4 linked regions of the Homo sapiens genome follow. The protein of the gene in region 1 interacts with the protein of each later gene in a pairwise test. Each region holds a gene or a part of one and is shown on either strand. Other genes may lie near its edges.

The links.
Region 2: the proteins of CRACR2A (region 1) and GIGYF1 interact in binary tests that used the Homo sapiens proteins (3 or more experiments, as listed by UniProt).
Region 3: the proteins of CRACR2A (region 1) and FKBP6 interact in binary tests that used the Homo sapiens proteins (3 or more experiments, as listed by UniProt).
Region 4: the proteins of CRACR2A (region 1) and NOTCH2NLA interact in binary tests that used the Homo sapiens proteins (3 or more experiments, as listed by UniProt).

The regions. Positions count from the first base shown.
Region 1 is NC_000012.12:3,638,088-3,645,113, reverse strand, and holds part of CRACR2A (EF-hand calcium-binding domain-containing protein 4B), read left to right. Parts: intron 1-473; coding exon 474-519; intron 520-3,275; coding exon 3,276-3,382; intron 3,383-4,334; coding exon of another isoform or gene 4,335-4,452; exon of another isoform or gene 4,453-4,745; intron 4,746-6,656; coding exon of another isoform or gene 6,657-6,659; coding exon 6,660-6,990; intron 6,991-7,026.
Region 2 is NC_000007.14:100,691,233-100,698,563, reverse strand, and holds the start of GIGYF1 (GRB10-interacting GYF protein 1), read left to right. Parts: upstream 1-4,313; 5' UTR 4,314-4,454; exon of another isoform or gene 4,455-4,627; intron 4,628-7,331. UniProt on the Homo sapiens protein: May act cooperatively with GRB10 to regulate tyrosine kinase receptor signaling. May increase IGF1 receptor phosphorylation under IGF1 stimulation as well as phosphorylation of IRS1 and SHC1.
Region 3 is NC_000007.14:73,331,139-73,338,164, reverse strand, and holds part of FKBP6 (inactive peptidyl-prolyl cis-trans isomerase FKBP6), read right to left. Parts: intron 6,509-7,026; coding exon 6,389-6,508; intron 1-6,388. UniProt on the Homo sapiens protein: Has an essential role in spermatogenesis. It is required to repress transposable elements and prevent their mobilization, which is essential for the germline integrity.
Region 4 is NC_000001.11:146,162,999-146,170,024, forward strand, and holds part of NOTCH2NLA (notch homolog 2 N-terminal-like protein A), read right to left. Parts: intron 2,013-7,026; coding exon 1,753-2,012; intron 1-1,752.

The sequences.
Region 1 (7,026 bases):
TTTTGTTTTGGTCATTGGTGTGACCTTGATGGCTAGAAGAGTGCCTGACATGCAGTGGGTGCTCAGGAGACATTTGAGTGAATGCGTGCATGCATGCATGAGTGAATGAATGAATGAATGGTGCACAGAGAGAAAGAAAGAGGGAGCCCAACAGGAAGCTCCCAGGTGGAGCTGGAATGCTGAGGTCCCCTCTGTAGGCAGTGCCCCTAATAATAAGAGAGGCCATGCATAATCCTGATGGGCCACGGGTGTCTCAAGGGCATTCAGTCTATCCCCCACATCTGTGTGTACCTATCTGTACACAAAAACTATCCTCTACCATTAATCACATCCCTATGGAAGGAGATTCCACAGACTCCCCTGTCTTCCATACCACACCTTCCCCTGCACCCATCTGAATAGCAAATTGGCTGCCGTTGGATCTGTCAACTGCAAACTCCATGTTTGAATAGATTCCCCTTTACCATCCACAGGGAAAGGAACAAGCACCTTCGGGATGAACGGGACATATGTTTTCAGGTAATTGGCCAGTTCTCCCTTACCTGTGGGGGACCAAGGGCTGTGGTCCACTGGACAGCCAGATCCATGTCGAGACTGGCCCAGCAATGTCCTGACACTCGGGATCTATTTGGCAGGATGACGGCATGAAAACGTTTTGCAAATAATAAAAATTCAGGGTGGCCTACTGGGTAACAACGTGTTAATTTTCCACAGAGTAATGCAGTTTCCTCTTGGCACAACAAGACTGAAATATTTGGGAGGGTCGCACATTTCTTGGATGCAGAAATGATAGTTCTATCCATGAGATGGCGCAGTTGAAATGTCATTATCACTTCTAAACCAAAATGCTCACACCGTTCTTCTTCATTTAAATTTTTATCTCGATGAAAATTTTGCATTTTATACTGTCATAGACCACATTAGAAATGTGTATTTCACTGTTTTCATACTTGATTTTATGAACAATTTTTCTCTATCCTATAGGGACCCCTACTCTTCCATACCTGAGTACCATGTCTCTCTCTCTATATATATGTAGTGTGTGCATATATATATATATATATGAGTCGTAGAATCACAAAACTGCTAAGCACTTTGAGGTCATCTGGACTGCCCTCTCCACCTCTAGTATTAACGGATGAAATTCCCAGCTGTGAACCCCAAAGTGCATTCTGCAGTTTATATATATATATATAATATAAATATATATAATATATATTATATATTAATATAAATATATATAATATATATAATATAAATATATAATATATATTATATATATTTATATATAATATAAATATATATATAATATATATTATATAAATATATATATAAACTATATATATATAGTCTGTGTGCATATATATGTATGTATGTGTATATGTGTGTGTATATGTATGTACATATATATATATACACACACACACTTTCCTAAACGACATGAAATCCTATATTTATTTGAAGGTCTTCACTGTGGACCACATTGGCCAAAACCTAGGATTCCATGTTCTTACTCATCTTTCCCTTTAGACAGGAGCCACTGGGTGCTTTGAAGGGAAGAAAAATGAAGGCCAAATTGATTGATGTGACTTCCTAATTATCAGGGTTACCATCCTATGAATTTCATGTGGGTCCCTGGGCAAGTCATTTACTGCCTTGGACCATGACCTCCGCTGTCACGCGAGGAAAGTGAATTCCCATCCCCCCTCCATACAACAGGAATCTTTGAGAAAGATTCTTGGAAAGGGGATGATGTGGATTGCACCCTTAGCTGAACGGTGACCTAGATATGGTCAGCAGAAGGCAATTGGTTTGCCCTAAATTAGATCTGACCTGCTTTATAATTGCAAATCCCTGAGGGACTGCATTACGCCACAGTTTCTTTTCCATTGCTGACTGGCAGCAAACATCTCTGCCACCCACCTGTGTGTACTATTAGAGCAAGACTTGAGCCTACACATGTTTGTTTGATGATGATAATGGTTATAATTGTTTTAGAAGTAACACTGAATTTATTTTAAAACTTCCAACCAAATGTCACCCGAATCCCTTCACCTCCCTTCCCTTTACCTGCCAAACTCATTCTGCTTTGAAAGGGGTATGGAATTAAGAACTTCTGTGGGGAATCAAAGAAAGGGATAAATTCAATAAGAATTGAAGATTGATTTAGAATCAGCATAGCCATACCTTCAGGGGCTCTGGGAGCATTGCAGCCCCTCCTCTCATTAAGGATCACTGGGAATCATGGGATGGCTAATTAACGAGAGAGATTTCCTGCAGTCTAACTCCCCCGCCTCATCTCCTGGAAGACATCTGTCAGGGAGCATAGGCAAAGGGGGTTGTAAACCCCTGCTCCACCCAGGTCCTGTGTTACAGATGTTAGTAGTTTATCTACACCCAGCCTACTTCCACCAAAGAGCTGAACTACCTTATGCTAGCTCAGGACAGAACACTGAGTTAATTGATCCTCCTGGCTAGTTACTTTCTCATTACATCTGAGGCTTTAGAAATAAAAAGGGATTGGAGCCAGACAGAAGAGTGTGAATTAAAGATTCACAGAGTTTTTTATGCCTGTAAATATTTTTTCTTTTTTCTATCTGACCAGGCGTGGTGGCTCACTCCTGTAATCCCAATACTTTGGGAGAGTGAGACAGGAGGATCACTTAAGGCCAAGAATTCAAGACCAGCCTGGACAACATAGCAAGAGTCCATCTCCACAAAAAATGAGAAAATTAGCCAGGCATGGTAGGGCGCCTATAATCCTAGCTACCCAGGAGGCTGAGGCTAGAGGATTGCTTGAGTGCAGGAGTTTGAGGCTGCAGTGCGCTGTGATCATGCCATTGCACTCTGACCTGGAAGACAGAGCAAGACCCTGTTTCAAAAATATAGATATATTTTTTCAGAAGAGATAAGTGTTTAATGTATATTTTCTAGATGCATTAGAAATATGTATAGAAAATATGCATTAAACACTTATCTCTTCTTTTCCTTTTACAAATCATCAGTGCTCCTGTGAATAGCATGATGGGCCCCAGGCTGTAAACTGTGCACTTGTTCATTTGATTAGCTGACTGGAAAGGAGATGGAGGGATTCTGGTAGGGGATGATGGCAAAAGGGAAGAGTGGCTAGACGCTAACAGGGAGACCAGAACACTGCCTACTCCTTTCAGAGTTTTGTGTAGAGCCTAGTCTATGAGGTGGGAACCATGAGCCCTTTTCTGTTCAAACATCGGAGCAAATAGGCATGGATCTGAGGACATTTTGTGTTTCTACAGAAAAATAAGGCAGCCAAGGCAAACACAGCTGCTTCCAGGGCAAGTTGGAAAAAGAGATCTGGCTCTGTGATAGGCAAATATGTGGACAGCAGAGGGATTCTTAGGAGGTAAGTCATCTCCACTTGCTCATCCCTTCATTCCTCTCAGGCTCATTGGGAGCTGGCTCTGGGCCCATACTCAGTGCCTGCTGACCCCTTGAGAGGTGCGGAAACTGAGGTCAGCTGCACTCACTCCCCTCAAATCTTGGAACACATGCCCCTCCCTGTTCTGACATCTAAGCCAGAGGGGGAATGTGCAGAGCAAACCCCACAGGACAGACCATTGTCTTCTGAGGCTGCCCCACCCTACTGTGTGTTTGCAGAGAGGGACTGCAGAGCAGCAGAGGAGAGGGGTCAAGGGAGAGGGAGGGAGTGTGTAGCTGGGTAGCACTACACTGCTGTCTGCTGAGCAGAATGGATGCACTTGGTTTCGGGGTTTTTGTTGTTGTTGTTTTTTGAGACAGAGTCTTGCTTTGTTGCCCAGGCTGGAGTGCAGTGGTGCAATCTCGGCTCACTGCAACCTTTGCCTCCCAGGTTCAAGCGATTCTCCTGCCTCAGCCTCCCAAGTAGCTGGGATTACAGAGGTGCGCCACCACGCCCATCTAATTTTTGTATTTTTAGTAAAGATGGGATTTCTCCATGTTGGCCAGGCTGGTCTTGAACTCCTGCCCTCGTGATCTGCCCGCCTCGGCCTCCCAAAGTGCTAGGATTACAGGTGTGAGCCACCGTGCCCGGCCAATGCACTTGGTTTTTTAGGAACATGACTATATTGGCTATGAAGGTTAATTAAACTGTCAAATAGAATCTCCAATAGTTAACTCCTTTTACAGACAAGGCTAGGGCTTGTGCTTGACAGATCGTTTCCATGACCTATATTTAATTAACTCAAACATAACACATTTTGTTGCTCTTGGGCAGCACATGATTGAGCTTGAGTACCCAAGGGTTGGCTCATTGCTCATTGAGAGACAAACCAGTCCCCTGCCCACTCTTCATTTTGGCATGTGCTGTGTCCACATAGATGGCCACAGAGAGATAGAGGCATCCCGACTCTTCAGTATCAGACCCAGAGAGACCTTGAAGACTGCAAGCATGAAATGAAAAAGATATGCAAAGCGGAAGTGACTCTGGAGATGTAAATCAGCTCATCAGTAAAACCTTTGGGCCTGATCATCATGAATTCTTGTTCTAAATAGCTGAATAATGAGATACAATTTGGGAGCCAAATCTCTGCAATAGTGGTTGGCCTGTTGGTTCCTCAGAATGGAATGGATTGATTGATTGATTCAGCAGACGTTTACTGATTACCTACTGTGTACCAGACATTCTTTTGAGTTCTGTAAAGCCTCCAAAAATAAATTAGACATGAGGTCCTACCATTAATCTCCATTATTAAATGCTCACTTAATAAATATTTATTGAGTGTCTACTATGTGTGAGGTCCTGTGCTCTTTGCTGGATATACAGTAGTGAGCCAAATGGACCTACCTCTGTGTCATTGAATTTCTGGTTGAGTGGAAGAAGCAGACAATAATCAAGTAAGCAACAAATTGTGAGCCCTGAATTCTAATGCAGACTTTGACAAAAGTAGCTGCTGTCCCTACGGATGGCAGAGAGCACTTGGTGGTAAAACCAAAAATGAACTCAGTCATGCCGTGATGCAGGTATTACAGAATGGCAGTAGTGCTTGAGAATTTCCCAGACAGAAAGCTTTTTCCAAGAAATGCTTTGTTTTAATGCCTGTTTAAGTGACTATTTCTTTTCTGGTTGCAAAGCCTTTGAAAAAACATGCTCTGTGTGTGTGTATGCGTAGTTGCTCATGTGTACATACAAATAGTCACTTGTGTGTGTGTAAGCAGAGTAAAAGTAGATGGGAATACCAATTGTGTTCTTAAACAAATAAGCACTTAATAAGCTTGATGCAATATATAGGAAGTTTGCTGGAAAGAAGACATTTGGCTTTTTTAAAACTGTTTTTATAAGTCAAAGGAAAGGTGCTTTAATTGCTGCAAATCCTTTATTTTTCATATCAAGGAATCCAAACTAATTCACCCTTTCTTCAAGCAAGCACTATATCGTAATTTATCTTGCAGAATCGCAGTTAATTTCAGGATGGTGATACCTGCATTTTTTTTTCTTTTTCCTTTCTACTGTTGATCTTTAAGAGTAATACATATTTTAAATTAGGGAGCAAAAGAAAGTGTATTTCTCTGTTCTGCATATTCTGTGTCCTTCATTTAGTTCCTTTCTCCTTTGGCTCTATCACCCCACTGCTTCATCCCCATTCCATTTTCTTTTCTAGTCTGTGTGCATGCTTGCATGCGTGTGTGTGTGTGTGTGTGTTTCAATTCTGGACTTAAGGTCCTCCCTGTCAAACTTCCTTTAAGACAATTTCTGTGAGGCCTTTGCTCTCAAAACCTACTGAAAATACAGACCCTGCATTGACCCCCACATCCAGTTCCCCGATTCCCTGCACTGCCTACAGCTTCTCCTTGCCCTTAGTGCTCAAATGCTTCTAGAAGATATTTAGGCCTCTGAGCCACTTACTCCTGATTGTGACTTCTAGGGATACAGAAAGGGGAAGAGAAAGGGAGAGGAAGGAGAGGTGGATGGAGATGCTCTGCCTGGCTTTCTTCTGACCCAAAGCCTCTTGTCTAGGGGGAAGCTGCCTGTGAGCCAGCAGACCTGCTATGTCTGGAGGTGGGGGGCCCTCCCAAAGCAACAGCACCCCTCACACTGCTGAGGATGTTTTGCAAACATGTCTGTTTTTATGCATTGACTTATTTGGGAATAGAGCAGATGGGCCACGTTTTACAGCAAGGTCTGAAGAGTTGGAGTGTCCTACCTAAGGACACACAGTGAGTAAGGGCTGGCGCTGGGGGCAGAGCCAAGGTCATCTGCTAATGTTAATCGGGGGCGCTTTATTAAAATCTGAGTCTGAGACACGTTTCTTCACAACCTTTCCTTCTCCTTCACAGCAGTCTCACAATTTGTAAAGGATGTATTTATTTGTGTCATTATTGCTTTAGTCCCCCACTAAATCAAGTATTCTGTGAGGACAGGGATTATGTCCATCTGTAAATGGCATCTTTACTTAATACTTGGTCATCATCATCATCATCTTTGTCATCATCTGCCACAGCAGTGGCAGCAGGCACTTAGTGGAAGCGTGTTGAATGAATGAGCTGCAGAATGCTGGCTGGTTTGTTTTTCCCTCTCCCGGACTGCTCTTGTCCAAAGGTGTGATGCTCCTTGGGTATCTGTTCGTCACAAAAGCTGTTATGCAGCCCGTATTGAAATATTTTGTGAAATCCTCCCAACTCTTCTCTCTTCCCCGCCCCAGTAGCCAGTCAGAGGAGGAGGAGGAGGTGTTTGGCATCCCAAGGAGAAGCTCCCTGGGCCTGAGTGGATATCCCCTAACAGAAGAGGAGCCAGGAACCGGGGAGCCAGGGCCTGGGGGTCCGTACCCCCGGCCGCTCCGCAGAATCATCTCCGTTGAAGAAGACCCCCTGCCCCAGCTCCTGGATGGTGGCTTTGAGCAACCCCTGAGCAAATGCTCAGAAGAGGAAGAGGTCTCTGACCAGGGGGTACAGGGACAAATCCCGGAGGCCCCACCCTTGAAACTCACCCCCACATCCCCCCGAGGGCAGCCTGTTGGAAAAGAAGCCCTGTGTAAGGTAAGGGCACAGCCTACCTTGGTTCATGCACATCAC
Region 2 (7,331 bases), on another chromosome or scaffold:
CTGAAGAGGAATCTGCCATTAAAAAAAAAAAAGTGGGGGCGGGGCGGGCGTGGTGGCTCATGCCTGTAATTCCAGCACTTTAAGAGGCCAAGGCAGGTGGATCACGAGGTCAGGGGATCGAGACCATCCTGGCTAACACGGTGAAACCCCGTCTCTACTAGAAATACAAAAAATTGGCCAGGCGTGGTGGTGGGTGCCTGTAGTCCCAGCTACTCGGGAGGCTGAGGCAGAAGAATGGCATGAACCCGGGAGGCGGAGCTTGCAGTGAGCCAAGATCGTGCCACTGCACTACAGCCTGGGCATCAGAGGGAGACTCCGTTTCAAAGAAAAGAAAGAAAGAAAAAGGGCCAGGAACGGTGGTTCACGCCTGTAATCTCAGCACTTTGGAAGGCTGAGGCAGGCAGATCACCTGAGGTCAGGAGTTTGAGATCAGCCTGACCAACATGGCAAAACCCATCTCTACTAAAAATACAAGACGCTTGAACCCGGAGGAGCGGAGGTTGCACCACTGCACTCCAGCCTGAGCAACACAGCAAGACTCTGTCTCAAAAAAAAAAAAAAAAAAAAGAAAAGAAAAAGAAAAGAAAGGCAGAGGCTGGCTGTTTGGTCTGCGTGAGACCACTCTTTCATCTCCATTAACCTTCCAAACAAATCTCTTTGTTTAGTTAAAAAGTTTGCAAATTTAGAACACAGACCAAGACATTTTACAGAGCAGCACCTGAACAAACAAAAACACATTAGCTCCAAATGATTTCTTTATTTTGAGATGGAGTTTCGCTCTTGTTGCCCAGGCTGGAGTCCAATGGCGTGATCTCTGCTCACCGCAACCTCCGCCTCCTAGGTTCAAGCGATTCTCCTGCCTCAGCCTCCCTAGTAGCTGAGATTACAGGTACGTGCCACCACGCCTGGCTAATTTTGTATTTTTAGTAGAGACGGGGTTTCTCCATGTTGGTCAGGCTGGTCTTGAACTCCCAACCTCAGGTGATCCACCTGCCTCAGCCTCCCAAAGTGCTGGGATTACAGGTGTGAGCCACCATGCCCGGCCAATTAGGTCCAAGTGATTTCTTTGTAATTTTTAAATTCTTCATGGGAGACTCACAGTTCTTTTTTGTTTTTTATTATATTTTTTCACTTTTCTCTCTTTTTGAGTCAAGAACTCATTTTGTTGCCCAGGCTTCTGGGCTCAAGGAAGGACAAGGTTTATTAGCAGCATGAGAACTGACTAATACAATCACGGTGGAAGACCAGAGGGGTCTCCCTGGATCTCCTGGACACCAATGTGTGACTTTGGACAAGTAATCCCCACCAACTGTAAAGTGTGAACACTGATGCTGAAGTCAGCAGAAATTAAAGCCTATAAACTCCCTCTTTGAGAAAGGAAGCTAGCTGGCAGGGCACGGTGGCTCACGCCTGTAATCCCAACACTTTGGGAGGCCAAGGCGGGAGGATCACTTGAGGCCAGGAATTTGAGACCAGCCTGGCCAAAACGGTGAAACTCCATCTCTACCAAAAATACAAAAATTAGCTGGGCATGGTGGCGCCTGTCTGTAGTCTCAGCTACTCAGGAGACTAAGGTGGGAGGATCACTTGAACCCAGGAGGTGGAGGTTGCAGTGAGCTGAGATCACGCCACTGTACTCCAGCCTGGGCGACAGAGCGAAACTCCGTCTCGAAAAAAATTAAAATATTAAATAAAATATAAAAACAGACAGCAGGACAGGCACAGTGGCTCATGCCTGTAATCCCAACACTTTGGGAGGCCAATATGGAAGGACTGCTTGAGCCCAGGAGTTCGAGAACAGCCCAGGCAACATAGTGATACTTCAGTCTGTACAAAAATTTAAAAGTAAAAAATAATAGCTGGGCCAGGCACAGTAGCTCGTGCCTGTAATCCCAGCACTTTTGGAGGCTGAGGCAGGTAGATCACCTGAGTTCAGGAGTTCGAGACCAGCCTGGCCAACATGGTGAAACCCTGTCTCTACTAAAAATACAAAAATTAGCCAGGCATGGTAGCACACACCTGTAATCCCAGCTACTTGGGAGGCTGAGGCACGAGAACTGCTTGAACCTGGGGTCGGAGGTTGCAGTGAGCTGAGATCACGCCACTGCACTCCAGCCTGGGCAACAGGGTGAGACTCTTTCTCAAAAAAAAAATAAATAATAAATAATACCCGGGTATGGTGGTGTGCCACTCCCTGCAATCCCAGCTACTCGGGAGGCTGAGGAGGGAGGATCACTTAAGCCTAGGAGGTCGATGCTGCAGTGAGCTGATTGTGCCACTGCACTCCAGGCTGGGCAGCAGAGCAAGACCCTGTCTCTTAAATAAATAAAATAGTTAAAAAAGGAAAACAGACAGGAAAACTCCAAGTGCAGAGAAGCCTAGTGGTACTTGGTGGGGGAAACAAAAGTTGTTCCAGGTATAATAGTTCCTGAAGTCAACACTCTATCATGGCAAGACACCAGGCACTCAAATTCCAAGTCATGAACTTACCTTTTCCTTGTTTTGAGGATTACATTGTGTTGGGCGACAGCTCTTTTAGGCTTCTGGGAAGTAAGGTATACATTCTGGAGTAACTTCCAAAGAAAAAGGTGAAAGCATACGCGGAACTTTTGAGCCTTGAAAAAGTTCAGCGAGTCATTCTTGAAAAGTCCTTTTTTTAAACAAAGGGGGTTTCAGTCACCTCACATTTGCATAGCAGTTTCTCTCTTGTCAAAGCCTTTCACATTCACTTATTTTAATTCTTACAGCACTCAAGGAAGAGTGTGGAGTTGGGGGTCGGGGGTTGGGTGCAGAGCAGTGTTAACATCCTTCTGTAAGAGAAACGGAGGCTTTTGAGAGGCCAGGCGTGGCGGCTCATGCCTGTCATCCCGGCACCTTGGAAGGAGGATCCATTTGGGTCCAGGAGTTCCCGGCACTTTGGAAGGAGGATCATTTGGGTCCAGGAGTTCAAGACCAGCCTGGGCAACATGGGGGAAACCCTGTCTCTACAAAAAAAAAAAAAAAAAAAAAAAAAAAGCTGGGCGTGGTGGTGTGCCCTGGTAGTCCTAGCTACTCAGGGTGCTTGAGGCAGGAGGATTGCTTGAGCCCAGGAGGCGCAGGATGCAGTTAACCGTGATCGCGCCACTGCACTCCAGCCTGGGCGACAGAGCAAGACTCTGTCTTGGAAAACAAACAAACAACAAATACAATAAATTAAAAAAATTAGTTGGGTGTGGTGGCACACAGCTGTAGTCCCAGCTACTCAAGAGGCTGTGGCAGGAGGATCCCTTGAGACCAGGAGTTCAAGACCAGCCTGGGCAATGTTATGAGACACGCCACCCGCCCAGTCTTTACAGAGAATAAAAAAGTTATCTGGGTGTGATGGTGCACACCTATAGTCCCAACAATTCAGGAGGCTGAGATGGGAGGATCGCTTGAGACACGGGAGTTGGAGGCTGCCGTAAGCCGAGATCGGGCTAGTACACTGCAGCTGGGGCAACAGAGTGAGACCCTGCTTCAAAAAAATAAATAAATAGGGGCCGGGCGCGGTGGCTCACGCCTGTAATCCCAGCACTTTGGGAGGGCGAGACAGGCGGATCACTTGAGTGGTCAGGAGTTCTAGACCAGCCTGGCCAACAAAAATAAGCCAAACGTGGTGGTGTGTGCTTGTAATCTCAGCTACTCGGGAGGCCAAGGCATGAGAATCACTTGAATCCGGGAGGCGGAGGCTGCAGTGAGCCGAGATCGCGCCACTGGACTGCAACCTGGGGGACAGAGCAACACTCTGTCTCAATAATTAAATAAATAATTAAAAAAATAAAGAGGCTCCTGAGAGTCAACTTATTTGCCTGAGCCACTTATTTCACACATCCCAGGACGCCTGATGAAGGGTTCTGGATTTTATTGTCTCCTGTCATCCAGGCGGGCTTCCTGGAGGAAACCGGACCGCCAGGGAGGCCGCGGCCTCGGTCCCAGAGGTCGCGCGTCGCGGGGCCGGGGGAGGTGGGGGAGAGGAGGCCGCTCTGGGGCCGATCCCGCCCGCAGCTGGGGGCCCCCGTCACGTGACCAGCCGGGCGCCCAGGTCACGTGTCGGGGCGGGGAGGGGGGGGGCTGTCGGGGGCGACGGGCGTCCGGGCAGTGGCGCGCGCGGCACGCGAGCAGCGCACGAGGAGAGGTGGCGCGGGCCGGAGCCGCGGAGGGAGGCGGCGGCGGCGGCGGCGGCGGCGGCGGCGGCGGCGGCGGCGGCGGCGGCGGCGGCGGCGGCGGCGGCGGTGGAAGGGGCGGCCCCGCGGCCCCGCGTCCGCGTCACGTGGTGCGAGGCGGGCAGCCATCTTGCTACAAACACAAACACAGAGGAGCGGCCGCCGCGGGAGCGCCAGCGCCCCCTCCCCCGCTGCTAGCCGCCGTCGCCGTCCCCGGCCCCCGCCCGCCGCGCGCCGCCCACGCCCCGGGACCGGACCCTCGCGCCGCCCGCGGTAAGCGCCCAGTGGCCCCGCGGCCCCCGGCCCGCAGCCCAGCCCCGGGGCAGGCCCGCCCCCGACGCCGCGGCGGCCGCGCCGAGCCCGCGAGCTAGAGAAGCGCCGGAGCCAGCGCGCGGGCCGCCAGCGAGGACCCTCCCCCGTCTCCTCCCCGAGGCCGCCGCAGCCCGGTGCGTCCTCCCGCTCTCCCGCCCGCTCCGGCCCATCCCCGCCGCCGGGACCCTCCCCCAGAGCCGGCCAGCCTCGGGGAGGCCCCGGGAGGCCGGCGCCCGGCTTAGGGGGCGACCGCTCGCCCCCCTCGCACCTGGCGCCCCTCCCTGAAGGGCACGCCGTCCTCCCGGGCCGGCGCGCTGCCTTCCACCCCCGCGCTCCTAACGGTCGCCCCCGGGCCCCTGCCAAGCCCTGCCCTGGGCCGCCTGGGGGCCCCCGACCCTAGCGTCCTAGGGTGGCCGGGCCCCGCGCTTCCCGGAGTTCTCCCCAGCGCGCCTTTGGGTTCCCCTCGGAACGAGCTGGGCCTTGCGGTTCCCCAGGTCCAAGCGTTCCACGACTTTGGCCAACATGGAAGCCTTGCCCTCCACCCAGGCACCTCGCCTGGGTCCTCCTCACCTCTGTTTCCTTTCGCTCCGGCGATCTTAGTGCTGGGTCATTGGGGTCTCCTTCTTCCCAGTTGCTCGGCCGCGGGAAATACCTTCCTTAGCAGAGACTGCTTGTCCTCCCCGTCCCAGGCCAGGCCCTTCTCAGCTCATGCCCCTCCGTGCAGCAGCTCCCTGGCCACAGCTCTCACACTTTGCCTTAAAAAAAAAAAAAAACAAAAAAATTTCCGAGTAACTTTTTAAAAGCCCCTCGTCTCTCTTCTCTGTTATACAGTCATTACTCGCATTCCCGGTCAGACTCCAGGTCTGTTGCATCCTAGTGCTAGGAACTAGGAGATGCTACATAAAGACTTGTTAGCTGGATTGGATTTTTTTTTTCCAGCCACCCAAGCCTTACTTCCCTCCTGCCTCTCAAAGTGTCGTTCTGGAAGATCGTCAGCTTTCCCACCCTCTTGTGCACTGCCTCTTCGAGTCTATATAGAAGTTTCAATTTAGAACCCCGCCAACCCCTCGCCTTTGGCATGGAAACACCATCGGTGGTACCAGTAAGGGTCTCTCCTTTGCTGCCGACATGGGGGATTTGGGGTTCTTTCTCCTTCCCATCTTTCCTGTGCCCTTTGCAGACCTAGGCTAGCCACCCTCCACCAGGCTAGCCAGCTCCAATCTGATTTTCTTAGATTGTAGGTCTTGGTCCCCCAGCGGTCTGTCGTGCCATTGGGAAGGATTTGAGGGTAGACCTGGCCTTGGTGTCCCTGCCATTGCCTGGGGACCAGGGGCCCTGAGGGTCCCACGTGGTGGTTAGTCAAGTGGACCATGTGCTTAAACTTCTGGACTAGCTTTTTCTGCTGTTGGACACATCAGTCTTGTGTTCGTGATCTGATGCGTTAGCCCTAACTTTTACATCTGCTATTGGAATTTGGGAATTAAAGAAAAATAGCCCACTTTAGAGGAGAGAAGATGAGAGGAGGAGGCTAGATGAAGGATGTTGAAAGTCTAACAAATGTAAAATGGCTTCAAACTCACAGAATAATGCTTGCGAGTTTGGGATGGTTACTGCTACCGTGCGCACCTCCAGTCTTGCATAGTGTCAAGGATGTCGGGGCACGCTGTCGGAGCAGCTTCCTCCTTCTTTTCCCTGGCTGGAGCCCAAGGCTGGGCAAGTGGGCAAAAGGGATCACAGGAGGTAAAGAGTGAAAATCCTTTGAAAACTGTTAACTTGTAGACAATTGCCAAGCGGTGGTGTGATTTGCTGGGATGGCTCAGAGAGGAGAGAGCTGGGATAACCGACCAGCCGCGAAGAATGCGGGTTTGCATCTCTTTTTTAAGCCTCAGCGTCCTCACCCTACCACGCTTGGAGAATCTCCATCCTGAGAAAGGGCCAGGTCCCCTCCAGCAGGCCTGGGGCTGGGCGGTTGTTCCAGTGTTGAGGAATTGGGGACTGTGCTTCTGTTTAAGTGGCTCTGTTCTGTGCCAAGGCACAGTGCTCTGTGTTGGAGCTAATTTTAGGGGTGATGGAGTGAGGAGATAATGTTCTTAGCTGAATGTGCACTGGGACCGCCTGTTCTCTGTCTTTTCTTTCTCTCTTGAGTTCTGAGCCCCAGAGAGCAGGCTCCCTTTCCCGCGCGCCCTGGCGCCTACTGGAGCACCCGGGCCCAGCGTGTCCTCGCCCCTTGTCTCCGGCAGGGGGCAGTCTTTCAAAAGCATTGATTCAGATGCTGGGGGAGTGAGGGTAGACAGGCCCGAGAAAGAGAAGGGGTGGGGAAGGGGCGAGGAGCCGAAGTAGGCCGAGGCTTGAGGGCAGGGCCAGGGCGGGGGACAGGCTGGAAGGGGCCTGTGAGAAGGAGACCCTGAGCTGAGAAAGCTCAGCCGGGTAAGCTGAGACGGGCAGGTGGCAGTACCCCAGCCCCCGCCACCTCCTGCTCTTACCTTCATTGGACAGGGATCAGATACCTGGCCCTGAGAGCTTGCAATAGACAAACTTAGGCAGTTTTTCTTAAAAAAAAAAAATCTATTCTTTTCTCAAAGATTTTCTCCTGGCAGGATTTCAGATTTCCCTCGTGGGACAGTGTAATTAGGGAATGATGTCCCTGCTGTTCAGAGAGGAGAATGACCCAGCGTGCACACACCTGCCTTCCCTTGCCTTCCCCTTGGCCCAGTAGACCCCCAAGGGCTGTGCCCATGCTCGTGGCGCAGAGGAGGGTGTCTCAGCACTGGCGCACTTGGTATCTGGAGTCACATAGCTCTTGGCTGTGGGGCTGCCCTGTGCACCCCCTGCCCAGTG
Region 3 (7,026 bases), on another chromosome or scaffold:
AATCCCAGCTACTTGGGAGGCTGAGGCAGGAGAATCGCTTGAACCTGGGAGGCAGAGGTTGCAGTGAGCCGAGATCGTGCCACTGCACTCCAGCCTGGGCAACAGGGACTCTGTCTCATAAAAAACAAAAAACAAAAAAAGAATGAGGTTTGTACAAGCTACAACATGGATAAACCTCAAAAACATGCTAAGTGAAATAAGACAGCCACAAAATGACACATATTTGACAATTCTAGTTACAAAATATGTCCTGAATAGGCAAATCCATAGAAACAAAGGAGAACAGAGGCTATCTGAGGCCAAAGAATTGTGAGTTTCATTTCGGGGTGAGGAAAATGTTCTGGAATTAGATAGTGGCAATGGCTGCACAACTTTGTGAATATACTAAAAACCACTGAATTGGACACTTTAAAAGCACACATTTTATGGTATGTGAATCATATCTCAACAACAAGAAAAAAAATAGTAAAACAAAAAAAAATGGATGAAGGCAGAGCCTGCACTCCCTGGAACTCCATTTGGAAGGTGCAAGTAGAATGGAAGAACTGGAAGGCCGGACACGATGGCTCACACCTGGAATCCCAGCACTTTGGGAGACCGAGGCGGGCGGATCACCTGAGGTCAGGAGTTCAAGATCAGCCTGGCCAACATGGAAACCCCACCTCTACTAAAAATACAAAAAATGAGCTGGATGTGGTAGCAGGCGCTTGTAATCTCAGCTACTTGGGAGGCTGAGGCAGGAGAATCCCTTGAACCTGGGAGGCGGAGGTTGTAGTGAGGCCGAGATGGCGCCAGTACACTCCAGCCTGGGTGATAGAGTGAGACTCTGTCTCAAAAAAAAAAAAAAAAAAAAAAGAACATGGAAGAACTGGAGAAAATGTGTCAGGAGATGGCAGCACAGGCAGAAAGTCATGAGCCTTCCTTGGTCCTCCCTTCCATCTCTAAACTCTGGGCATTCACCAGGCAAGTTCCCATCAACTGTCTCCATACCTTCTGAATGGATTCAGCTCCCATTCACATCACCAGCTGGAACCTCACGCCTGAACCCTGCTCTCATACCCAAATGAAATTGTGAAGCAAGTTGTCAGCTGGAAACAGTTTTCTACAGGCCCTGCTTACCTGCTCATTCCCATGAGTAATCAAAATTGAAAGTAACACATTTCTTTCCCAGTTATTCCTTGGTTTAAATTTTTTTCTCAGACCAGGAAGTTTCAAGTCATTCCCTTCTTCTGTTTCCTTGATCTCTTATATATACAACTTCATCATATACAACGTCATCAAGTCTAACCATCCATTTTGTGGAAGTACTTCCAGAGCTTTTTCTTCTATTTGCACAACTCACAGCTGCTTTAACACATTCCTGGACCCTGTTAACAGGTTCAGCCGCAGCACACCCAGCACGGTGCCTAACATGAAACAGAGCCTCATTAAAATGAAGTTTGTCATTTGACATGTCCTGCACACAGTGGTGTGCTGGTACATGTTTAATAGCCAGCTCTCGGGGGAGGTGGACCCCTGTTTGTAGCATTTGCCTATTCCTATGCTGTAAATATTCCTCCCAGAGCTGATTTCAAACTACCAAAGTGACATTAACGAGGGCACAAAACTCCTGAAAATTTTACAATTGAAATTTTGAGTTTTCACGAGCTCCAGCACAACTACTGCCTCTTCCCCGAATATGACTTTTATCAACACACTCTTCCTCAGTGGTTCCCTGCCATCCACTTCATCAAGTCCAAATCCATCCACACATATTTGAATGTCTTCCTGAATCTGGCCGCCTCCTATCACCTATGATTCCTTAGATGTAACCTATGTTTCTGACTAGGAATCTACCAACTGTGGCCTGAATAGGTTCTGATCACTTTGTTCATCTTTTTTCCTGCCGAGAATTTATGGTGGAAAGGACAAGACAGCTCTCAGGGACCTCTTTTATAAGGCCACTAACTCCATGTAAGAGGGTTTCATCTTCATGACCTCATCATCTCCCAGAGGCCTCACCTCTTAATATCACATGGATGATTAGGTTTCAACATACACATTTTGGGGAGACACAAACATTCAGACCATAGGTATTGGTTAGCTGTTGGAGCTGCATTTAACTCCCTAACTAGATTCAAATCCCTTGAAAGCAGGAAACCCCATACTTGTGTGACCCAGACAATGCTGAGCAAAAGGTGGAGACACAGTGGTGCTGACAATGTCAGTCCGCTGCTCCAAAGACGGAGAAACTTTCCACTAGGAAAAGACGTGCAAAACCTCTGGCTCAGCAAGGCAGGCTCCACACACATCCCTACTTTCTCCAACCCTAAGGGACTAAGACAGGTAGTACTCCAACACAAGCAAAGGACAGGAAAAGGACCAATAAACCCAAAGGTTCAGGGTGGGTGGCAGTGTGATGACTGATTTGGCAGAGTGGTGCCAATGTAAAAGGGACCGGTCTGCCCCTCAGAGCCTGGAGAGACCTAGGAACTGATGGAACCAGGAATTAGAGCTATCTGGTGGGGCTGAATAAAGGAGGTCAGGTCAAATGTTCCCCACCCCGTCCACTGCCCCTATGTGTCCAGATGGCCTCAGCAATCACGAGGTCTCCTTTCTGGGAAAATGGAACCAAAGAGGCCCTTGACTTGGGGGCAGGCTGGAGCAGACAGCAGGAAGGTGGTATACTGGTAACGCGGCTATGAAAAGGAATCTCAATACCAGACAGTGAGAACCTCTGTCCTGCTGCCCAGCTTGGCTCCCAGAATGCCGGTCCCTTGGCACACACACGGGGCAGAAAGAGGAGGACTCAATGGACCCTGAGGAAACACCTACATACTCTAATGTGTGCAGGCTGTCTTTGACCACACTGCAACCTGCCCCACCAAGCACCTGGAGCTCCCAATCAGCTTTGTGATGTCTCTTTTAAATCTTAGTGGTCAAAGATCACCAGCCATTTGAGGAAACCCTCTGTGAAAGAGGTGGCCTCCTGCCTCCCAGCAGCTGCCCTCCCTTCCTTCACAGTAATAGGACTTTTTTTTTTTTTTTTTTTGGCCAGGAACACGTACAACCAGAATTTAGATATTTGCTAGGCTTCTTTGCAGCTAGGCAAAGCCTGGAGAACAGGTTCTGGAAAACATAATTCAGTAGAAGCATCATATGACAAGGACCTTCCTTAACAGAGCTGTACATGCCTTCAGCCTTTCTTCCCTTCTGCTGCTAGAACTCAGAGACCCTCATCTTGGACTACAAGGCCAGAGTCTCACCCCAGAAATGAGAACTGGGTATCTGAAAATATCTGCAGCAGAGTCACCAACTGGCCCTAGCTTGCATGCCTCTACTCTAGCCTTTTACATGAGTGAGAAATAAACCATCTTTAGGTCATTGACAAACTTAGTGCAAAAGGACACAGTCCCCAATATGTAGAAAAACCAAACAGAAAAAGAATGAGATTAAATTATAATCGACAGTCTAAATATATAAAATAATATACACATGAAACAAGAACAGAATGCTAGGGAGGGGAAGAACAAATAGCCCTTCAATTTTCTAAAATTTATTTTTTGTAGAGATGGGATCTTGCTATGGTGCCCAGACTGATCTTTAACTCCTGGCTTCAAGCAATCCTCCCACCTTGGACTCCTGAAGTGCTGGGATTATAGGTGTGAGTCACTGTGCCTGGCCCCCCAGTTTTAAATGAAAAATTCATCAGAAGAGGTGGCAAAAAGTCAAGGAAAGCTTCCATACATGACACAAACAGGAGAAAAGATGGAAACTAGGTGGGGAGGGGGGAGGGACAGCAGCCAGAAGCTCAGTGCAGGAGGTCTGATAATAGGAGTTCCAGACAAAGAGGGCAGAGGGAACAAGAGTAAATTATCAAAGAAATAACTCAAGAAAGTTTCCCAGAGTGGAGGAAAAGTTTCCTGAATGAAAAGATACACACACGCAGAGGCACATCACCGTAAAATTTAGGAATGCCGGGGAAAAACGATCTTCGTCTCTACAGAAGAAAAAACAGGTCACGTAGAAAGGAATAAAGAACCTAAGTAGTAGTAAGATTTTTTTGTTGTTGTTGTTAGCTTTGAGCTCAGAACTAGCAAGACCTTTTTTTTTGAGATGGAGTTTCACTCTTATTCCCCTGGCTGCAGTGCAATTATGCCATCTTGGCTCACTGCAACCTCCACCTCCCGGGTTCAAGCAATTATCCTGCCTCAGCCTCCCAAGTAGCTGGGACTATGGGCACCCACCAACACGCCCAGCTAATTTTTGTATTTTTAGTAGAGACGGGGTTTCACCATGTTCGCCAGGCTGGTCTTGAACTCCTGACCTCAGGTGATCCACCCGCCTCGGCCTCCCAAAGTGCTGGGATTACAGGCATGAGCCACCGTGCCCAGCCAAAAGACTTTTTAATAACAACTCTAGACAAATATGTATTTAAAAACCAAGAATATTTTAGACATACATCAACATACTCTGTTAAAACAAAGGAGTAAGTTGAGAAAAAAACAGGAAATCCACAAACTAGCATTATAGGGCAGCCCCAGGACAAGAGCTGTGTGGCGGGCCCCAGGGAGATTCTCCCCTGGCCACGCATTGCGGGGTCACCTGGGTGGGAAGGAGGGAGGGGAGAAGAGTCTGGTGCTTGTGTTATGTTAAGAGCTTTCTGGAAGACCCTCCAGAGGTTTCCCTTTATGTCTCCTTGGCTAGACCCTTGTTACAGGGACACCCTAAGCTCATGGGAAGCTGGGAAGATGTAGTTTTTTAATTAGTACACTGATGCTTTGAGTGAAATGGGAGGTTCTGTTAGGAGAAGGGGGAATAGATATTGGGTGACAGGGTCGGCAACATTTGGCCTATATGAGTATGTTCCAGAGACAGCACACGCATGTGTGGTGTTTTGTTTTTTTTTTTTTTGGAGACAGAATCTTGCCCTGTTGCCCAGGCTGGAGTGCAGTGGTGCGATCTTGGCTCATTGCAACCTCCGCCTCCTGGGTTCAAGTGATTCTCCTGCTTCAGCCTCCCAAGTAGCTGGGATTACAGGCACCCACCACCATGCCAGCAAATTTTTGTATTTTTAGTAGAGACGGGGTTTCGCCACGTTGCCCAGGCTGGTCTCAAACTCCTGACCTCAAGCTATCCACTCGCCTCAGCCTCCCAAAGTGCTGGGATTACAGGCATGAGCCACTGCGTCCAGCCATGTTTGTTGAATGAATAAAATTAAAAAGGAAACAGAAAACAGCTCAGCATAACCTACACAAGAAGCAAAATCACAACAGGAGGCTTGATGAGGCTGCAATTGCCTCAGGCTAGAATCGCCAAATGAGCCTCCACTGTCAGAGACATGAAATGATGATGGCAAAGGGGTGGAGAAATCGGTTGGTGGAGGACCTAATAAGCACTGGGATGAGAATTTTTAAAAGTTAATAAACTGAATTGTTTTAGAGCAGTGAGATGGAAATTCTAAACACTTCTAGTTCAAGTACATATACAGAGGCAAATGTTTTTCACAACCTGAACACACCCATGTACCCAAGAACCACGTCAAAACACAGAACATTCCCAGGTGCCTCCCAATCCCGTGAGTCCTCTCTCCAGCCCTTATCCCCTCGAGAGTCCCCTCTTCAGCCCTTATCCCCCCGTTAGTCCCCTCTCCAGTACTTATCCCTTTGGCATGAGGATTTTTTTTTTTTTTGAGATGGGAGTTTTTTTGCCTTTCTTGCCCAGGCTGGAATGCAACGGCACAATCTCGGCTCACTGCAACCTCAACCTCCACCTCCTGGGTTCAAGTGATTCTCTTGCCTCAGCCTCCCAAGTAGCTGGGATTACAGGCACCCACCACCACGCCCGGCTAATTTTGTATTTTTAGTAGAGACGGGGTTTCACCATGTTGGCCAGGCTGGTCTCAAACTCCTGACCTCAGGTGATCCACCTGCCTTGGCCTGGCATGAGGATTTTTTTAAATGAGATTTTTCTTAATGGCTGCTCATAGAAAGTAGGGAGAAAGACAAAAATCTGTGTTTTTTGCCGGGCGCGGTAGCTCACACCTGTAATCCCAGCACTTTGGGAGGCCGAGGTGGGCAGATCACGAGGTCAGGACATTGAGACCATCCTGGCTAACACGGTGAAACTCTGTCTCTACTAAAAATACAAAAAAATTAGCCAGGTGAAGTGGCGGGTGCCTGTAGTCCCAGCTACTTGGAAGGCTGAGGCAGGAGAATGGCGTGAACCCAGGAGGCGGAGCTTGCAGTGAGCTGAGATTGCGCCACTGCACTCCAGCCTGGGCGACAGAGCGACACTCTTGTCTCAAAAACAAAACAAAACAAAAATCACAACAAAACAAAATCTGTGTTTTTTAAACAAGGAAGTTTTCAGGATCTAAACTTACACTTAACTTTCAAAGCATTCTCACCCTTTTATATCTCACTTTGGCATCATAGAAACGATTCTGGCGGAAAAGGTAGTTGCCAAACTCCCGTTCCGTAGCTGCCACTTTCAGGACCTTCTGAAGTGGAAATTGGTCTTGCTGCTCCTGAGGACCAGAGACAGGAATATTCAGCAAGGAAACCAAAAGCAGTAATGCCACAATGGAAGTGTTAGTACACGTGAGCCCAGGAGTTCGAGACCAGCCTGGGCAACATAGTGAGAACATGTCTCCATTTAAAAAAATAGTAATTGAAAGAAAGGAAGTGTTACTACAGCTGTGAGCTCTTCTTTTTCAGATCATGCACTTCTGTTTACAGCCTTCTGTGTTGGAGTCACCTCTGAATCTGACAGAAGCCACACCAGTGTTATAACCTGTCCCATTTTACACCCTAGAGCCAGAAGGAAGTCTACGTCTTCAGTCTTCCCCTGATGTTCTCTGAGGAAGCAGTGTCCCATGGAATCAAAAACTGACGGAACTTGCCAAGCACAGAAGTCAGTGCTCAAAACCACTATTTGGCCACCAAGCACTGAACAGGTCTTGGTTTGCTCAGGGCCCTGGCAGTCTTTATGGTCATGATGCTCTGCCCTGGCCATCTTCAGAGTCACCCATAGAGCCTCTCTGGT
Region 4 (7,026 bases), on another chromosome or scaffold:
TAGTGCTTAAAGCAGGAGAAAAAATGAAGAATGTTCCTCCTTTTCTCATCTAATTTAATAAACACTTTTGAATAAAGCTCAGACCCACCTAGAAAAACCCACAATCTATTCAGGTGAGATATGTGTAAAAAAAATTACAATAAAATGTGATACATAAAACTAATAAAACTTAGAGACCATTTGCCTAAAGGAATCATGAAAGGGTCACTGAGACACAGTTTTAAATAACATTGGACAATCACCAGTTGTAGAAAAGGGCATTCCAGGCAAAAGGGTGTGTAACTGTATGGAAGCAATAATAAGTACAACATTTTCAGGAAATAAGGAGAATTTGGTGTGACTAGGCCTAGATGCTTGTGGGGAGGCCAGGCTATAAAAAGATGTAAAGTCTAGGCTGTAGAGAGCTATGGAAGTCATGTAAAAGAGTTTGCAGTTTATTCTGCGGATGATGAAAAAATATTAGACATTGTAAGCAGGTGAGATTGTTAGAATATTTGCATTTATAATCAAAGATGTAGTAATATCATGGGTGAATGAGATGGGGAGAGAATAAAGGCAAGAAAACGTATTCAGAAACTACTTCAGAAGCCCAGGTGAGAGATAACATGGCCTTCAACTACAGGGTAGCAGAGGAAATGGGAGGAATAGACAGGTGAAAGGCAACTCAGAGGTTGGCTTGGGTGACTGAGTTGAAATGAGGTCAGAACAAGGGACAGGGAGTTTCTAGCGTGGGTATTTGGGATGTACATGGTTGCTACGTATTTCTGTCAACAAGGTGAGCTGAAAGTACCTGTAGAATATCTCCAAGGAGAACATACAAAGGATAACTAGAAACATGAGCCTGAATGTCAGGGTTGGGTGGAGCTAAGGGAATGATGGTGAGATTCATCAGCAAGCTAATGAAGACAGTGGCAGTGGAGGCGAATACAGACAGTGAAATTCCCTAGGGAGAGCTGTGATGTGGCTCAAAAGAGGGCGCAAAACAGTGCTCCAGGGAGCACAAACATTTAATGGATAAGAACAAGGTAATGAAGAAGCAAAAGGAACAGGGTTCAGAAAACCAGAAAAGCCAGTGCCCTGAATGTCTAGGGAGGGAGATTTCTAAAAGCAAATAGTCAATAACATCAGCAACTTTTCCTCTGGTGACAGTGTACTTATTTCTTTTAGTGAAGTAAACTCTGATTCCCCATCCTGGTGTACATATTTTTTTTTTTGAGACAGGGTCTCACTCTGTCACCCAGGCTAGAGTGCAGTGGTGCGATCATAGCTCACTGCAGCCTCAAACTCCTGGGCTCAAGCAATTCTTCCACTTCAGCCTCCCAAGTAGTTAGGACTACAGGTGCACACCACCACACATGACTAATTTTGTTTTATTTTTATTCTTGTTTTTTTGTAGAGATGGGGTCTTGCTATGTTTCCCAGGCTGGTCTCAAACCTCTAGCCTCAAGTGATCCTCCTGCCTTGGCCTGCCAAAATGCTGGGATTGCAAGCGTGCGCCACCGCACCTGGCCCTGACATATATACTTTAAGCAGTCAAAGTATTTGGTCCTTTTTCTTTCTCTTTCTCTGCCCCCTGAAACTCTTAAAAGGAAGTTAGGGATAGTTGTCTGGAACATCCCAGTTCCTTATCATAATGTTAAATGTGCACCAGAGCTGGGGGACATTTAAGAGCCAGACACCATGATCTAAAAGATGCTAAATAAAGGTATCTGCTGAAGGTAGGAAAGCACTGGCTTTGGTCTCATTAGTTACCTGTAAACCCGACTTGACAGGTGCACTCATAGGTATCCCGGCTGAGCATATGGCATGTGCCGCCATTCAGGCAAGGTCGAGACACAAAGCATGGATGAGATGTCGAGTACTGGCAGTCCTCTCCTGTAAACCCTGAGGCACATCGGCACGTGGCTTTCCCCAGCATGGCCTGGGCCACACAAGTCCCACCATTCTGGCAGCGGTTCTTCTCACAGGGGTCTCGATGTTGACAATATTCCCCCAAGAAGCCTTCTGGACATCTGTATGGAAAAGAGAAGAGTCCATGAAAACACCTGACTTCTTGTAAGTCCAAAAAATTACAGTAAAACAATACAGTCCAATCAAGAAAGCACGAGATTGTGAATCAACAGACCTACAAGGACCACCTATAAAACTGCTTCCCTTTAGAAGAAAGAGTCCTTAGAGAACTTAACCACATACTCCCATGTCCTTTTGAGTCCTGGCAGGTGACAGAGTATCAGGTGTATGGTCTAGCAGGGTCTGCCATGGCCAGTCAACATGACCCTTATTCAAACGCAAAATGCACCCCAGCTTTTTTTCATGTGTGTACAGGTTGGGATGGTGTAACAGCACCTTTTTTAGAGCACTGTTCGTACTTGTCTGCTTAAATTCATTAACTTTCTCATTTTGACTAAGCCATTTGATAGGATTAAGATGTCCACAATATAATGCATGAACTTGACCCTATTATCCCCTCCAATTTAAAATATGTAAGATATCATGTGCTTTTCCTCAATTAAGCATTGAGAAATAGTAAGTGCTTCTTTCTCTTATTTCCACTGAAACATCAATTGGATGATACCTAGTTTTCTGGGTTATGTTCAGGTGGCTGACATTACAACGGAAAAAGGGAAAGGAGGTACAGGAATGGGGAAGAGTTCAAAGGGATATTTAAAAATCTGTTAATATTTAAGTAGGCATTTTTAACCAAATAAAAAGACACAAAATATAATTAAAATAACATAAAATATCTAAGATACCATATAAACACCAAAGTCAAGGAAGGAATCAATTGAAGAATAACATTCTATGATATTTTCCACATTGAGGCACTGAGGAACCTTTTTACATGCCACCCCTTGATTCATAAGATGTACAACCATTTCAAACTGTGTGTATTATTTATGACAATTTTCTCTGAACAATATCAAAAAGGCATGGTAAGTCTCCATTTTCATAATGAAGTTGTTTAAATGGAATCTCTGAGAAGCATTTAAATTAAGAAACACAAACACTTTGATTCTAACTATAAATGCTGCTATATATTTGGCTGGTGCCCCAAATATGTGATTCAACTTATTCCTCGTTTTAGTTTTCAGGGACTAGAAAACTGAATCTAGTAGGCTGTTCCACCATTACCTCAAAGATTACACATTTAAACCAAACTCTAAATCCCCCTCTCAAAAACCAGCTTTTCTGTGCCCAAGCCTTGTTGTCCTGATTTTCCTAATCATTGTGACCTGAAACATTGGGGTCATGAGTGCTTTTGTCTTTGACAGTCATATCCAAGACCTTTCATTAACCATTGGTTGGCAAGGCTAGCTAGCAGGGGTCACAGTTACTGAGAAAAGAGGGAAGGCCAGATACTAGGGAACTAAGACAGAAAATGCCCAGAAGAATTGTGTAGTAGCTAAAATGGCTAAAGGAGAAAACAGGGTGGTGAATAGCTATAGTGGTAGTGAGGTAACTGGCCACAGCCTCTTCACCCCTCCCAGAGCTGCATAAGATAAGCATGGCAGAGCAAGGAGCGGCTAAGGCTCTGGGCATCTTCATGAGTAGGTGTAGCTACAGACCAACAGGCAGTGAAGAAAGTTCATAGCACTGAAACCAAAGATGGCATGCAGGTGACTGTGAGGAGTCTGTATCAAGAAGGTCAGAAGGTCTGGTTTGGAGTTCTGGTGCTGTGACCTTGGACAAGTTACTTATCTTCATTGACTATCCATTTTCTCACATTGTAAATAGTTAATAAGGTCACCTACATCATGAGATTATTCTAAGAACTGAACAAAATCAAGTATGTAAAAAACCTTATAAATGTTAAAAAGTTTTGCAAGTGGGCTGGGCACAGTGGCTCACACCTGTAATTCCAGCACTTTGGGAGGCTGAGGTGTGAGGACCATCTGAGGTCAGGAGTTTGAGAATAGCCCGGCCAACAAGGTGAAACCCTGGCTCTACTAAAAATACAAAAATTAGCCAGGGTGGTGGTGCACGCTTGTAATCCCAGCTACTCGGGAGGCTGAGGCATGAGAATTGCTTGAACCCGGGAGGCGGAGGTTGCAGTGAGCCGACGAGATTGTGCCACTACACTCCAGCCTGGGCAACAGAGTGAGATTCCATCTCAAAAAAAAAAGTTTTGCCAAGTGAAAACATCTTTTCTCTCTTCTTTGTGCTTATTGAGGAAAATACAATGCCCCATCCAAATCACAGCTTGATTTGAGAATAGTTTCTTGTGTTGGTTTTTTGAAGTGGAGGAGCAAAAAGTGCCAATGTAGCATAGCTAAAATTAACTCTGAGATATATTATTAAAAGCATTTGCAGCTTATTCAAGAAATGTGTTATGAATGTTAAAAACTGCAACACAATTCTCACTCACAGTGCAGCCCTCTGGGCATTATTAGATGACTCTTCATTCTCCCATATGGGAATTATGCACCTTCTAAATAATGGCAAATTTTTAAACGTGGGTGGGCTTTGCTCAGCTTTGCTCCTGAACTATTACACCACCCTAACACTATCATGTGGCATATGCTAAGAGAATGCAAAGTCATTTAAATGGTAGCATCATAAACATATAATGGAAATATAAGGTTCCCAGGAAAACAAAAATGAAGCAAAATGGAAGTTTCTAAAGCTAAACAGATGTATTTCTGAATTATTTGTTTCTACAGTTTAATTCACATTGTTGCTCCCTATCAAGTATGGAAAAATAAGTTTTAACCTAAGATATATTTAAGAAATCAGTAAAACCAGAGATTGACAAAGTACAGTTTGCAAGTCTAATTTGGACCACTGCCTGTTTTTGTTTGGCCTGTGAATAGTTTTTTACATTTTTAAATGATTAGAAAAAAAGAACAAAAGAAGGATATTTTCTGACATTTCAAAATTATATACAATTCAAATTTCAGTGTCCATAAATAGTCTTACTGGAACACAGCCATGCTCATTCATTTATAGATTGTCTATGGCTGATTTTCCACTACAACAACAGAGTCAAGTAGCTGTAATGAGACCACAAAGCCTGCAAAAATAATTACTCTCTGGCACTTTACAGAAAAAGTTTGCCAACTTCTGAGTAGAGAACATATGAAGGCTAATTCTATAAATACCATCCAATATGCTTATTAATAATGATCGGTTTCTGATAGGAAATCAACCTTATTAGTTTCCACAAAGAATATTAAACTTATAATCGTTCATTCACACAACAATTAGTAAATGCCTATTATGTGCCAGGCATTTTTCCAGTGCTAGAAAAATTCTTACACTCTTGGAGTTTACATTCTAATAGCGGAAGACGAAAACAAAATTACTAAGTAAAAGATGCACAATAGATGGAGTTAAGTGCTGTGAAAAAAAATTAAACAGGAAGGAATGGAGCTGGGGATGAGGGTGTGGGGTGAGCAAAGAGAAGTATCTCAGTTTAGAATAGGAAAATCAGAGAAGACCTTCACTGACAATACTTGAGTTGAGACCTAAATAAGGTGAGAGTAATCATGCAGGTATCTTAGGAAAACACATTCATGAGAAAGGGAACAGCAAATGCAAAGGCCATAACACAGAGAGCAGCCCTAGCGTGTTTGAGAAACAGCAAGAATATCTGGAGCAGCAGAAAATAGATGAGAGCTGTAACTGGGATGTGGATCAATTGGGGCCTTTAAGCCACTGTAAAGAAAGACTTAGGGTTTTCCTCTAAATGGGATAATACTTACATATGAGGTACAACAGACTTACTCTCCTAAAGCCCGTGTACAGAACCATATATTTGCTTTACGTGAAACTAGACCTACTGTATTAATAAAGTTTGATTTCTATTTAAAATGTTTTAGAGGGCTGGACATCAGCTTAGTTCTTTACTTTTACCTTAGAAGATATACAAGTCTCTTTTAACCCACACTTTCATGAGGTCCCATTTCCCTTTCCAAATTATTGTTTCACAGCTAACCTTCTATGACTGTAGCCTAATTTCAGATATTCCTCTTTCTTTTCCATCTACTTCTTACTTATCCCTCTGCAACAAAACTTTAATTCTAATTATTGTTTAGAAACTGTTTTCTAAAAACAATGACTTTCCTCTAGTCAAGTTCAGTGGTCTCATCTGAAACTTCATAAGGAAATTCTCTCTCCTATAGGGAGAATTGCTAACCACTCCATGTACCGTTTTAATCATTTTACCTTGGCTTCTATGCCTCCCTCTGTCTAACTCAAAACCCAGTGAAGTCTTAGTCTGGATTGCTGATTTCTCCTTCTTCCCCATCTATTATGGCCACCCTAATGTTTAAGTCTGGACTGCACTGCTCTTTCTCTCAAATGCATTTGTTACTGTTGTTGTTCACTTGGTTTTAAACAACTTCCTTCCTGTAACTGACTCCAAAATACACTGTTCCAGTCCCATATGTTCAGTTTTCTAGAAGTCATCTCTCTATCCTAATATGTGCTGCCACTATTTGAAACTAAACATTTGTAAAAGGAGATCATCTTCCCAAGAAACTTTAATTATTCAATTTTTCTAAGGCTTCCACACACAATTTAAAGTAACTTCATCTCTTTAAGTTGTATATAATTTATTACCACATTCTGACAAGACTTGTTAACTGAATTCCTATAATACTTATCATTCGTGTTCACAGTTTCCTTTTTGATACAAATTCTGATCATCTTAAAAGCCTCAGGCCAGACATCATCTTGTTGCTGGCTTTTCCCCCATTTCCAGCCATCCTTGGAATAACAGAACCTTCAGATTCAAGAAATTTAATTTCTATCCAATTAAGTAATCATTTCTAAAATATTTCTAAAAGATGATCACCAGCCTCTGCTTGAATACAAGCATGTAGCATGGTGCCGGATAAATCTTGAGAATTTAATAAATGCTTGGAGTTATTATTGTTCTGCTCTTAAGAGTACAGACTCTGGAACCAGACCACCTGGATTTCAATCCCAACTCCACCATTTACTCAATGTGTAGTCTTGGGCAAGGTACTAAACTTCCCTGTCGTAAAAGAGATGTAATAACAGTGCCTACTTCATAGGATTTTT